Linked DNA regions of Homo sapiens. The protein of the gene in region 4 purifies or fractionates together with the protein of the main gene of each other region. This does not show direct contact. Each region holds a gene or a part of one and is shown on either strand. Other genes may lie near its edges.

Region 1 (3,500 bases), on a different chromosome or scaffold from region 4:
TCCCATTCTTAGATGAGGAATATGACCATGGTTTATCCTTTCGTCCATTGGCGGACATTTGGAGCATTTCTACCCTTTGGGATTGTGGATAGAGCTGCCGTGAACATGGGTTTCATGTATTTGTTTGGGTACCTGCTTTCAGTTCTTTGGGGTCTCTACTTAGGAGTGGAATTTCTAAGTCATCATGTAACTGCATTTAATCTTTCCTTGCTTTCTTTAGCCAACTTTGCTGACAGATACCTAAGTGTAGTGTCTAGGGGCTGACTGCCGGGAGACGGAGCCAGGCTGTGTAGAGGGGATTGGCTTTGGGGAACTTGCTTTGACCACAGCACGTCTGTGTTGACCTGGACCCACATTTGCTCCAATCCACATTCCTGGGGAGGGTGGTTCTCCTGTATTGACTGTTTTCCTTCAGGTGCTTGGATGAAGCTGAAAAGACACTAAGACCTTCTGTGCCTCAGATCCCTGAGTGCCCGATTTGTGGGAAACCGTTTCTTACCTTAAAGAGCAGAACCAGTCACTTGAAGCAGTGTGCTGTGAAGATGGAGGTTGGCCCCCAGCTCCTGCTTCAGGCTGTGCGGCTGCAGACAGCACAGCCTGAGGGTAGCAGCAGCCCACCCATGTTCAGGTAAGTCGACGAAAAGGAAGAAAACCAAGCCAAATAATGCTGTGTGCACTCAGGGCTTTTTCTATTTAAAAAAGCTTTTTATGGGCTGGACGCAGTAGTTCACACCTGTAATCGCAGCACTTTGGGAGGCCAAGGTGGGCAGATCACCTTAGATCAGGAGTTCGATACCAGCCTGGCCGACATGGTACAATCTCGTCTCTACTAAAAATACAAAAATTAGCATGGTGGCACATGCCTGTAGTCCCAGCTACTTGGGAGGCTGAGGCAGGAGAATCACTTGAACCCAGAAGGTAGAGGTTGCAGTGAGCCAAGATCGTACCACTGCACTCCAGCCTGGACAGAGTGAGATCCTGTCTCCAAAAAAAAAAAAAAAAAAAAAAAAAAAAAGCTTTTTATAGTGTTGGAGGGAAAAAGAGCCCTCTTTGATTCTGGAAATGAAACACTTAGGGCGGAAATCGGGCACAGTCTAGAAGGGAGTGAGGAGGGGACAGAATCTGCATTCTGGAAGGCTCTGGACCTGCCCCTTTAGGGGGGTGCAGAAATGATCTTCGCACTGTTTTCCTCAAGGTCCTTCCTGAGTTTCCAATCCCATGATCCCACAGTCGGTACCCTCTAGTGCAGGGGTCCCCAACCCCCCAGCCTCGGACCAGTACCGGTCTGTGGCCTGTTAGGAACCTGGCCACACAGCAGGAGGTGAGCAGCGGGCAGGCAAGCTTTACTGCCTGAGCTCCGCCTCCTGTCAGATCAGTGGTGGCATTAGACTCACAGGAACACAAACCCTGTTGTGAGCCGCACATGCATGGAATCTAGGTTGAGCTCTCCTTATGAAAATCTAAAGCCTGATGATCTGAGGTGGAATGCTTTGATGCTGAAACCATTCCCCTACTCCTGTCCCATGGAAAAATTGTCTTCCATGAAACCAGTTCCTGGTACCAAAAAGGTTGGGGACTACTGCTTTACCACATCTAAGAATTTGGTAGTCACTTTACTCCATCCATTTCGTTGTTGGACAGCATGGTTTCCACCTCAGCACAGTCCAGTTTTCACACTGTTAACATAAGATTACTCAGCACAGTTCACAGATTTGGTGATTGGCCAGGCACGGTAGCTTACACCTGTAATCTCAATACTTTGGGAGGCCAGGGCGGAAGGATCACTTGAGCCCAGGAGTTCAAGGCCAGCCTGGACTACATAGCAAGACCCATCACTACAAAAAATTAAAAAATTAGCTGGCTGTGGTGCTGCACACCTGTAGTCCCAGCTACGTGGGAGGCTGAGGCGGAAGGATCACTTGAGCCTGGGAGGCCAAGGTTGCAATGAGCTGTGATTGCACCACTGCACTCCAGCCTGGGCGACAGGGCAAGAACCTGTCTTCATAAAACAAACAAAAACAACAACAAAGTTGGTGCAACAGAAGTGTAGGACCCTATTTTTTAAAAATCTTGCATGAATTAATGCTTAAAAGTTAAAATGAGTTGCCTTGCTCACAGCCAGGAAACAAGTCCTCAGCATGCAAACCACAGCCACACAAGTGCCAGAGGGCTGGCCCTGCTCCACGCTGCCCTGCTGCTGAGGACGCTAGAGCTGACACCAGGTTCATAGTGAACAAAGGCATCTTGGACCTTTGACTCCTCCAGGTTTGAGACCGCTGTCAGGAGCAAAGGGAAGGCCAAAGGCGATAGCTGTTTGTCCCGCCCCCTGCTTTGCACACAGGTCATGGGCAGCTGAGCTGGCTCGGGGCTGAGATGGCAGAGGGCAGAGGGGATTCTCTTGGTGGAGGAGCGCATCTGTATTTAGCATGGCAGGGGTGCAAGCCTTGAGGCCTTAGAATAGACGTCATCTAAGCCATTGTTTCTTTCTTGGCAGGACCACGCCAAAAGCACCTGCTCAGATAAAGTATGTCTGCCTTTAGAATACCTCCAAGTACTGAAACTAGATGTATGTGGATCCGTTTAGAAGGTTGTCAGAGTAGAAAACTACAGGAGCTGGATGCCCTCATGGGGTCTTTGAACCCCTCCCTCCCCAAAGGCCAAGCCTGTGGTCATCAGAACGCATGCCCCGGCCAGAGTGCCTCATATTCTTTCCCCACAGCCCAAACCTGGCCTGCTGGGGAGTGAGGAGGGAACACAGTCTGTGTTCCCTTCACAGAAGCAGGGTCCCAGGCTGCCCAGGCAGCTCCTTTCCCTCTGGGAGGCTGTGATTATCCACGTTCCTGGGAAGGTGAACTTGAGCCATCCCTGGCACCCTGGAGAGCATGAGCTTTTGCAAAAGCCAGAGGCATGACTGCATTGCAGGGAAGGTGGGCCCGGTTTGTGCTAAGTTCCTTTGTCACCTCTGCCCTCCTCCTTCTTGCCCAGCTTATTGGGAGTCACCCAGGCAGCCTAGGTTCTCTCCAGCCGGAAACTCCTGTTCATTTCCTCCAAACCAAACGAGCTGCTGCCCGTTGAAAGTGCAGAGTCCCGGGGCGGCTGGTATAATGTTGACCATCGGCAGCCTAAGCTGGGAAGCCCTTCCTTCTGGCCATGGACAGAGGCACTGCCGTGGAGCCCTTGCAGGAGGGAAGGGATCCTTTTCTGCCGGTGTGGCCAGGACCGTGTAAGGAGCATCGGAAGTATTGATGGGTGAAGGTGGTGGGAGTCCAGGGAGCCTGCTCAGAGCCATCGATTGTTGACTCCATTGGATGGGCTTGGCCACATGAGGATGTGCAGGTACCACAGATGGCTCCGTACATCTGCCATGAGCCTGCTGGACAGCAGCACGTGAAGGAACCCAGACCCTCCTGTGCCTGGGCCATGTTGAACTTCTGGCCTGGAATTGAATGAGTTCACACAAGGCAGTGGAAGTGGGGGACGCATCTGCCTGGCAGGTCCAC
Region 2 (2,569 bases), on a different chromosome or scaffold from region 4:
CCTTTTGACCCGTGTGTAACTTCCTCTGGTAGTTAGACCCCAGGCAGCTCCGAATTTGTGAACCTGCTTCCTGATGAATTCTCCCTTGTTCCCCCTTGGCTCTGCCATTATTTCGTTTTCAGTGTAATTTGCCAAGCCGCAGTTTTCTGTGCTGGCTGTGCCTCTAGTCGCAGCTCTGTGACTGATTCCCTCCCGGGTGCTGAGTCCCCTCCCCGGCCACCATCCTGCGTGAATATCCTGAAATTCATGGGCTTCCTCGGGGGCCCGCCCGCAGGTGGTGCTGGGTGGGTTCCGCCACCTTCTCCTGGAAGGTGAGCCTTTTCCTGGCCAAGGGCAGCTGCCTTAACCTCTGAGAGTCTGCGCTTGGCCTTAGTCCTGGAGACCCAGCCTCCAGGGACTGAACCGTGCTGCTGTTGGGAGCCAAGACCGGCCCTTTGGAGCCGGCAGCCCAGGGGTCCCTGCTGGATCAGAGAAATAGAAGCACCCGAAGACGGTTAGTGGCAATTCCTTGACCCGGTTTGCTTCCAAATGAAGGCCATTTGTCCACCAGGCATTGAAAAGACATGACTTACCCAGTCCGGCATCGGACTTGAAAAATCGAAATTGACATCACTCAGCTGTTACATTTCACATCCGATTCAGCCCCCTTTTATTTCCATGTGCTTTTCGCAGCCTTCCTGTGTTGGATGAAAGAGAATAAGAATTCAGCTGACAGGAGGCCTCTATCCTGTCCCTCCACCCCACCCTCCACCTCAATCCCCTCCCATCTTCCCCAGACCTACCTCACCTACTAGGACCTGAGGCAGCTCCTTAGCAGAGACCCCTGGGGTTTAGCTGACTCTGGGGGTCAGGGGTTCCTGTCCCCAAACTTCGCAAGACAGCCCTGAAGTCACAAGTGCTTTCTTTTAAGTGGCATTGGCAATTGGCGTGTAATGATGGCAGTAGAATCTGAATCTCGGATCCCAGGCAGGGTTCACATTTCCAAACCTTTTTGATTTCCCCTGACCTCTAATGGCTGGATCCTATTTTTCTACAACCTTTCAGTGACATCGTTCAGGTTTCTTTCTTGGCCATTTAAAAAAACAAATTTTTTTTTTCTCACTTGTAAGTCACCGCCAGTACCTAAGTTAGGCTAACGGAGACTTTGACAGGACTGGATTTTTCTTCCACCAGAAGAGAAGCCTTTTCCGTTGGTTTGGGGCCACCTCTTTGACCATGACCATGTGATGTTCCGTTTACAGTGACTTGCTTTGGGGGAGGGGAGGCTCTCTTAACCGATTCCCATGTTGTACAGTAGATGGTTAGACCTTTTGTATATTAGTGTGTTTTAAGTTATTGATTTGTTTTATATAAAATAATTTATTTTTCAGGTGCCATTTTTCATTTTAACTTTGTTTTTACATGGGTTTGTTTTCAATAAAGTCTGACACTGGTGTCCAAAAGTCAACAATAAAATGAATCCCATTGTGTTCTTTTGAAGATGCCTATGTAACTTTTAAGCTTTTTAAATTATTTTCAGAAAAAAAAAAAGAAAAGCCCTTATCAGTTTTCCATCAGCCCATTGCCTTTTTATTTTTTTTTTTTAATCCTTGTGAATAAATGTTCTTTAGTGTTTTAGGAGGAAAAAGCAAACCTAGATTTTGATAACCCAGAAGACTTCAGATTAATAAAGAAGCTTTGAAAGAAGACCATTTTTCAAAATTTTAGTGAAGTGTGAATATTTTTTGTCAATGGCTTTCTCAAAGAGAATGAAACTTTTGCACCATTTTCAGAGTTTTTATAGAGATGCCAAATTGATATATTTACATGTAATGGAAACATGAAAAAGTTTTATTAAACAATTGTTCATAGCTGTGTAGACATTTTAATTCAGTTTCCAAAGCTCTCAAAAAATCGTATTTTTGAAGTACGGAGTGATGCGGTTTGGGGCGTGGCTTACAGTTCCAACGACTCAATTGTCCCGATACTCAGTTCTTTCTACAGGTATCAGGTTCGTGTTAAACGCTGTATGTTAACTATGACTGGAATTCTGTGATATTTTGGTAATAAATGAAGTGGGATCATTGCGATGTGCTGGTGTAGGGGTGATGGTGTATGACTTGTGAGCAGCCCACAGCCCAGTAATAGAGTGCCAGGGGATGGGGACCTCTTCCCTCCGAGGTAAGCCTGTGCCAGGTCCCGGGAGCCCACGAGGGGACACCCAGTTCGGGTGTGCCCTGTGCTGGCTGACCCACGGCCCTTCAGCTCCCACCCAGATGCCCCTCTTCTCCAGGTTCACAGGTCAGTGGGCCCACCGAGTGGCCCCTGGGTATGGCCCCCCTCCATCTGCTTCCCACACCAGTGCTCCCCCAACAGTGACCCGGGGATCCTGCCTCTTCCCTCGTCTGTATGTGGAACCATAGTCACTCCCGAGCCCTGGGGCCATCCTCAGTGTCCCCTCCGTGAGACTGATCTCCTTTGTCTCCTTTGGGATGGGAATGGTTAGGGGTCTCAAGGTCAGAGAGTCCAGGTTCAAATCCTGGCTCTGACACCACTCCCCAGCGTGCCACCCAGGGGAAAGTCCCTGGCT
Region 3 (2,899 bases), on a different chromosome or scaffold from region 4:
AAATGTACATGCATATTCACAGCAGCGCTATTCACAATAGGCAAAAGACAGAAACAACCTAAATGTCCATTAAGGGATGCATGGATAAACAAAGTGTGGTATATACATATAATGAAATAGCAGTCAGCCATAAAAAGGAATGAAGTACTAATACATGCTACACCATGGGACATTATGCTAAATGAAAAAAGCCAGACACCAAAGATCACATATTGTAGAAATCCTTTTATATTAAATATCTAGAATAGGTGCATCCATAGACACAGAGAGCTGTTGGTGGTTGCCAGAGTCTGGAGGCAGGGGGAGCTGCTAATGCTGAATCCCTGAGGGTTTCATTTTGGGATGATGAAAATGGTTGAAACTAGATAGATACCACGTGTTGCGTGGTGGTACACAACATTGTACCTGGACTTAAATGCCACTAAATTGTTTCTCTTCCTTTTCTTATAAGGGCACTAATCCCATCATTCCGGCTCCATCCTCATGATTTCACCTAAACCAAATTATTTTCCCAAGGCCCCACTTCCTGAGACCATCACACTGAGGGCAAGAGCTTCAAGATATGAAGTTTGTGGGGAATGCCAACATTCAGTCCATGACACTAAGCAAAGTCTTCCTGTACTCTTCCCACAGCTTCTTGATGCAGTTTTCTACGTTGTCAAATGTATCAGCTTGTGTCAGTCCACTTTTTCCCCGGAGCCCTTTGTCTTCATGTTATAATCTAGACCTGAAGCTCATTAAGCCTGCTACACAGCTGTTGTCCTAGAAATTTAACTCTCTCCTGCACTGAATCTCCTGTTTCCTGGATCCCATGTCTTCTTTCTTCCTTTACATCTTCAATTTGGTGGCACACATTGTCCAGTAGTTTCATGAGAAAGGATACATTAGAGATAATTTTTGTGTGTATCTGAAACTACTATTATTCTACCAACTCTCTTGATTGTTTGTCTGGGTAGAGATTTCCAGGTTGCAATTCATTTTCCCTCAGAATTTTGAAGCCATTGCTTTATCATCTTAAGATTATCGTTGAGAATTTGATGTTGTTCGTCTTAATCTTTTCTATCTACCCCTGTCCTTTCTGAAAGTTTTTGAAATCAGAGACATATTTCTCTGTGGTAGTCTGATATTTCACAGTGATAAAAGGTAAATGTCATTTTCCCAGCCCCTTGAAAAGTTCTTATATTATTTCTTTGATAGTTCTCTCAGTTTTCTCTCTTCTGACTTTCTGGAGAAAAAGATCATCTGATTTAATCACTCATTTCTCCTATTACACATATATTTGTATAATTCTTTTCACCTTCTAGGAGATCGACTCACCTTCTTTTTCCTACCTTTCTATTGCATTTTAATTTTGTTGACTAAAATTTTACTTTCTAAGAGCTCATCTTGTTTTCTGATGGTTTTTCTTCCTCCTCCTCAATCCAACCCATCCCCTCTCCTTCCCTGGCATCACTGCCTTTCCCCCTTTCCCTTTTTCTCCTCTCTCCCTCTCCTTCATCCCCTCTTCTTCTCCTCTCTCCTTCCTGTGCTCCTCCTCTTCCCTCTTTCTCCACCTGCATCCTGTTCCCCATCCCTTGCTGTATTATTTTCTTTTATCTCTGAGGGCAGAGATTGTGGAATTTTTAATTTGTTCTCCATTTACTCTACTTTAGTTATCTTTTGTCTGAGCCAGCATTCTGTTTCCTCCAAGTTGCTCTTATCTGTGTTTTGGTTTTGGTTATATTTGATGTCCATTCATCTCTATGGGCAAGGCTCTGCAAAGCTCATTGGAAGATGTGTGTGAGTGGGGTGGGTGGAATGGTAGGCTTCACTGTAGAATAACAGAGCATGATCCAGTTGATTTAGCTGAAGGACACCCAGATGTCTGTATCTGTGTTTTTGGACGGGCTGTTCTGTTCCTTCCAGAATAAAGATCTTTCAGTATCCTCCATGTAAATAAAAGTTACCCCTTCATTTATTATTTGTAAGTATTGGGATTTTAACATCACACTGTCTTAAAGTAGGACACAGCTCAGTTTATTCATTAAAATAAAAGAGTTGGACTTGATCCTTTCTACCTATAATAACTCCATGAGGCTTTGCTATAACCTCTATTTAGAATAATTTAAAGGCATTTAATAGCTTAATATAATATATATATAATATATTAACTCACACACTTTCTCTGCAAAGAACCTGTGTGGGGCACAGGGGTGGGGAGGGTGGCTACTAAGCTACTAATAAACCAAACACATATTGTGCCTTCTAGAAGATATGTCATCTATATCAATTAGCATAATGTAAGACAGAAAATCATAAATGAGGCTGGGCCAGATGGCTCACATCTGTAATCTCAGCACTCTGGGAGGCAGGTGGATCACTTGAGACCAGCCTGGGCAACATGGCAAAACCCCATCTCTATAAAAAATTAGCCCTGCATGGTGTTGCTTGCCTGTAGTCCAGCTACTCAGGAGGCTGAGGTGGGAGGTTCAGATGAGCCTGGGAAGTCAAGGCTGCAGTAAGCCATGTACTCCACTGTACATGTACTCCAGCCTGGGAGACAGAGTGAGACCTTGTCTCAAAAAAAAAAAAAAAAAAAAAAAGGAAAAAAAGTCATAAATGAAAGGCAGACATACCTGGCTTTAAATTGCAGCACTGCCTCATACAAGCTGTGTGACCTTGAGCAAGCCAAAATCCTTTTTGAGTCTGTTTCCTCATTAATTCCACTATGTGATAGACCCCGTACTGACACTGGAATAAGAGTAGCAGATAACAAATGTACTTCTCTCCATGGAGCTCATATTTATTACATGTTGTTATTAGGTACAATTCTATTTTAATGCTTACATTTTTTTATACCCTGGCATTTCTGTGGTTAAAGTAATGCTAACACATATTTTGTGTCCATACACTATACTTT
Region 4 (3,500 bases):
TGCATAGCAAGATAAATTAAAGAGGGCAATGCAGCACACTGGTTATGTGCTTGGGCTCTGGAGCCAGGCTGCCTGTGTTGAAATCATAGCTCTCCTATTTACAAGCCATGTGATCTTGGGCAAGTTATGTAATCTCTCTGTACCTCAAAGAACTTAACTACTCTGTACAAATGAGTTTCTCGATGTATATTATGAAGGTGAGAGCACTTACATGTCATAGGATTGTTATGAAGATTGCATTAGTAGATATAAAGTGCTTGGAACAGTGTCCGGCTTTTACAAGTGTTATATAAACATATGCTAATATTATTATTATTATTTGCATAACCTTTTTGAGCCTTAGGTTTCTTTATCTGACAAATGAGGTTATCAACACGTTCCCTGCTACCTTGTAGATGATTATAAAGATCAAATAATGAAGCTTGGGTCTTTATATTATCTGGTTATATTAATCCCTGAAGACTTTGAGCTTCTTGAAAACAAATCTAGTAGCTTACCTGTTTTTGGAATCCCAGCACAGTGTAGGCACTGACAAACAGTCGTCGTCACTTATGCCCTTGAATGCACTTTTTAAAGCTGCTAAGTACTGTACCCATGAACACGGTAGTGCTATTATCATGGCAACAAGAGCCAATCTTAGAAAAGTCCTTTGGCAGTCTGGACAGAATGGAGAGGAAGGTGTAGGGATGAGATCAAAAGCAAGGGGATCAGTGGGAGCTACAGCAATGGTACAGCTACAAAATAAAGAGGCCCTGAATTTGAACAGAGAAGATAGGACATACATGCTCCATGGCCGTAGAAGGGTTTCACTGATCCACCTCTTTTGCCACATCCAATTCAGGCTGATGGTGTCTCTCCTATCTGCCCATAACAGGTACTTAATTGAACTAACTAGAAACTTTATCAGGAAAGTGAAGCTGCAGGATGAAGTCAGGAATGACCAAAAAGATGGATTCAGTTATAAGAACTGGTGAGTTCTAGGTCAGCAGAGTTTGAAATATCTTTGAGACAGACAAGTTGAGTCTTCCAGCTCAAACTAAACAGCTAAAAGTGCAGGGCTAGAGCTTGAGACAGCCACCCAGGCTGAGGAGTGTTAAGGAGCCAATACCCATTAAGGGGGCAGGTAGTGCGGCAGGAACTGGAGGGAGGAGACAATCTCAGGCACAGCCTTGGGGGACACTAACCTTCCAGGTGTCCAGGCAGAATGAAGAGAAGCCCACAAGGCACAGCACTATTCACAGTAGCAAAGACAGGAAACCAACCTAGGTGCCCATCAATGGTGAATTGCATAAAGAAAATGTGGTATATATCCACCGTGGAATACCTTGCAGATATAAAAAGAACAAAATCATGTCCTTTGCAACAACATGGATGCAGCTGGAGGCTATGATCCTAAGTGAATTAATGCAGGAACAGAAAACCAAATATCACATGTTCTCACTTATAAGTGGGAGCTAAACAATGGGTACTCATGGACATAAAGATGGCAACAATAGACACTGGGGACTACTAGAGGGAGGAGGGAGGGGAACAAGGGTTGAAAAACTAATTATTGGGTACTATGCTCAGTACCTGGGTGATGGGGTCAACTGTACCCCAAGCCTCAGCATCATGCAATATATCCAGGTAACAAATCTGTACATGTACCTCCGGAATCTAAAATAAAAGTTGAAATTATTTTTTAAAATGTACATTTAAAAAAAAAGAAAGTAAGACCCTTTGTTAGATTCAGAAAAAGTGAAAGATTTCTAGATTTTTGCTAAAGTAATGCTTCTCAAAAGGTGCAGCATTAGTGCTGGACCTACATATACCTGACCTGTACAGGGAAGGGAAAAACACTACATTTTTGGCCAAAATTCCTCATTGGTAAACTAGTACATTCTGTTTTGAAGATTAGGGTAAAGTGTACTATCATTCTATATGCATATGTCATGCTGCTAAACACTAAAATAAAAATATATCTTTGCTGGGAAGAAAGAAGACGAAAGAAGAAAGAAGAAGGAAGGAGAAGGAGGAGGAAGAAGGAGGAAGGAAGGAGGAGAAAGGATGAAGGACGAAGAAGAAGGAAGAAGAAGAAGAAGCCTGCAAAGGAGAATAAAGGGGTAATATGAGATGCTAGAGGCCAATAATGAGAGGGGACATCATGAAAGCAGATGGCGAGAAAGAAAGGGTAGGACACAGGGTCATGTGAGGCCAGAAATGAGGACAAGCCAACAGGTTTAGAACTGAGGTTACTGGTGACTTTTAGGAGAAGGACATTTAATTTAGTTCATTTCACCCAATTAGAGGGTCTGTCTGGTTAAACAGGCCATGAAAATAGAGTTTGCTCAGTAGCTGTTAAATACTTTGCTAAAGGAATTGTATCACTACACAAAGGCATATCCCCCTCCTTACCTCCAAGCAGAACCAACACATGTCTCAGCGTCACACATTCCTCTGTTGCAAGGTCCACCCTAAGGCAAACCCACAGAGTCTTATGAGGAAATCTGTAGGTGTTTATGAGGCAGCAAATGCCAACCAGAGAGGAGGAAGCGCTCAGCAGGAATGCCATAATAGATAATCCTCACACATAGTGGAGAACAAAGGGAGGAATGGTTCCCTCTAAGAATTCATCAAAAGCAGAGACTGGTCATGGGACTAAAGGTCTAAGAGACCAAAGCACAGAGGAGTCAGAGCTCCTCGGACAATCTTCTAAAAGAACTCAATATCCAAAAAAGACCTGCTCCCTGACTTTTTTACGCTACATATCACCTTTCAACTCTCCCCACACCTTTCCAACCCTCTATTTGCTGTGAAGCCATATGACCTAAGCCAGGGAACACTGGCACCACATGGCCCTGGATGAGGTTAGCCCAGGAGAGGGCTCTGAGACCAGGTTTGCTCTTTGTAATGCTTCCCTCCTCCAGCACCTTCTCTGATCACAAAAAACCACTGAGACTCTGCAGGAGACAAATGGAGCTTTCAGTCAAGTTTGGGATTAAAACCTCTATTCCAGGATTATCACAAAACTGTATAAACTTGATGCCTAAGCACCCTGGAGACACCAGGCAGGACTAAGACAAAGCTGTCAAGAAAGAAGAGAAATTTGGAGAAACCCCTACATACCCCTCCTTTGAACTGACACACCAGGGACTTTAACTTAATCTCACTGCATTCCATTCTTACTCCAAGAAGGAGCCAGCAGGTCTCTTGAAGCAATGTGCACCAAAATAACAGTGGTTGTCAAGCTTTCAAAAATCCTGAGGCTCAGGCCACACCCAAGTCCAATTCAATCATGATCTCTGGAGGGAGACCCAGGCATCAGCAGTTTTTTATACCAGTCCAGAAGACTTCAGTATGTAGGGAATCACTGGCCTAGAGCAGTGCCAAAAGCAAAGGCATTCATGGGAATTTGGACCAATAACAAATGTTTCTGGGACTCCATTTCTAGGACTCTCCTGGTAAAAGGGGACAGGACTGAGGAAGGAAAGAGTAAAGATCATTGTGTTAACATAAATTCC

Evidence for each region. The genes of interacting proteins can lie anywhere in the genome.
Region 1: the proteins of SLC25A13 (region 4) and SLX4 purify together in Homo sapiens (co-immunoprecipitation; one large-scale study listed by IntAct). This does not show direct contact.
Region 2: the proteins of SLC25A13 (region 4) and ELAVL1 fractionate together in Homo sapiens (co-fractionation; one large-scale study listed by BioGRID). This does not show direct contact.
Region 3: the proteins of SLC25A13 (region 4) and HSDL2 purify together in Homo sapiens (affinity purification with mass spectrometry; one large-scale study listed by BioGRID and IntAct). This does not show direct contact.

What each region holds. Positions count from the first base shown.
Region 1 is NC_000016.10:3,598,107-3,601,606, reverse strand, and holds part of SLX4 (structure-specific endonuclease subunit SLX4), read left to right. Parts: intron 1-415; coding exon 416-628; intron 629-2,118; exon of another isoform or gene 2,119-3,446; coding exon of another isoform or gene 3,447-3,500. UniProt on the Homo sapiens protein: Regulatory subunit that interacts with and increases the activity of different structure-specific endonucleases.
Region 2 is NC_000019.10:7,958,073-7,960,641, reverse strand, and holds the end of ELAVL1 (ELAV-like protein 1), read left to right. Parts: 3' UTR 1-2,069; downstream 2,070-2,569. UniProt on the Homo sapiens protein: RNA-binding protein that binds to the 3'-UTR region of mRNAs and increases their stability.
Region 3 is NC_000009.12:112,467,108-112,470,006, forward strand, and holds part of HSDL2 (hydroxysteroid dehydrogenase-like protein 2), read left to right. Parts: intron 1-2,615; exon of another isoform or gene 2,616-2,730; intron 2,731-2,899. UniProt on the Homo sapiens protein: Has apparently no steroid dehydrogenase activity. Controls bile acid (BA) and lipid metabolism in response to nutritional cues.
Region 4 is NC_000007.14:96,312,099-96,315,598, forward strand, and holds part of SLC25A13 (electrogenic aspartate/glutamate antiporter SLC25A13, mitochondrial), read right to left. Parts: intron 1-3,500. UniProt on the Homo sapiens protein: Mitochondrial electrogenic aspartate/glutamate antiporter that favors efflux of aspartate and entry of glutamate and proton within the mitochondria as part of the malate-aspartate shuttle.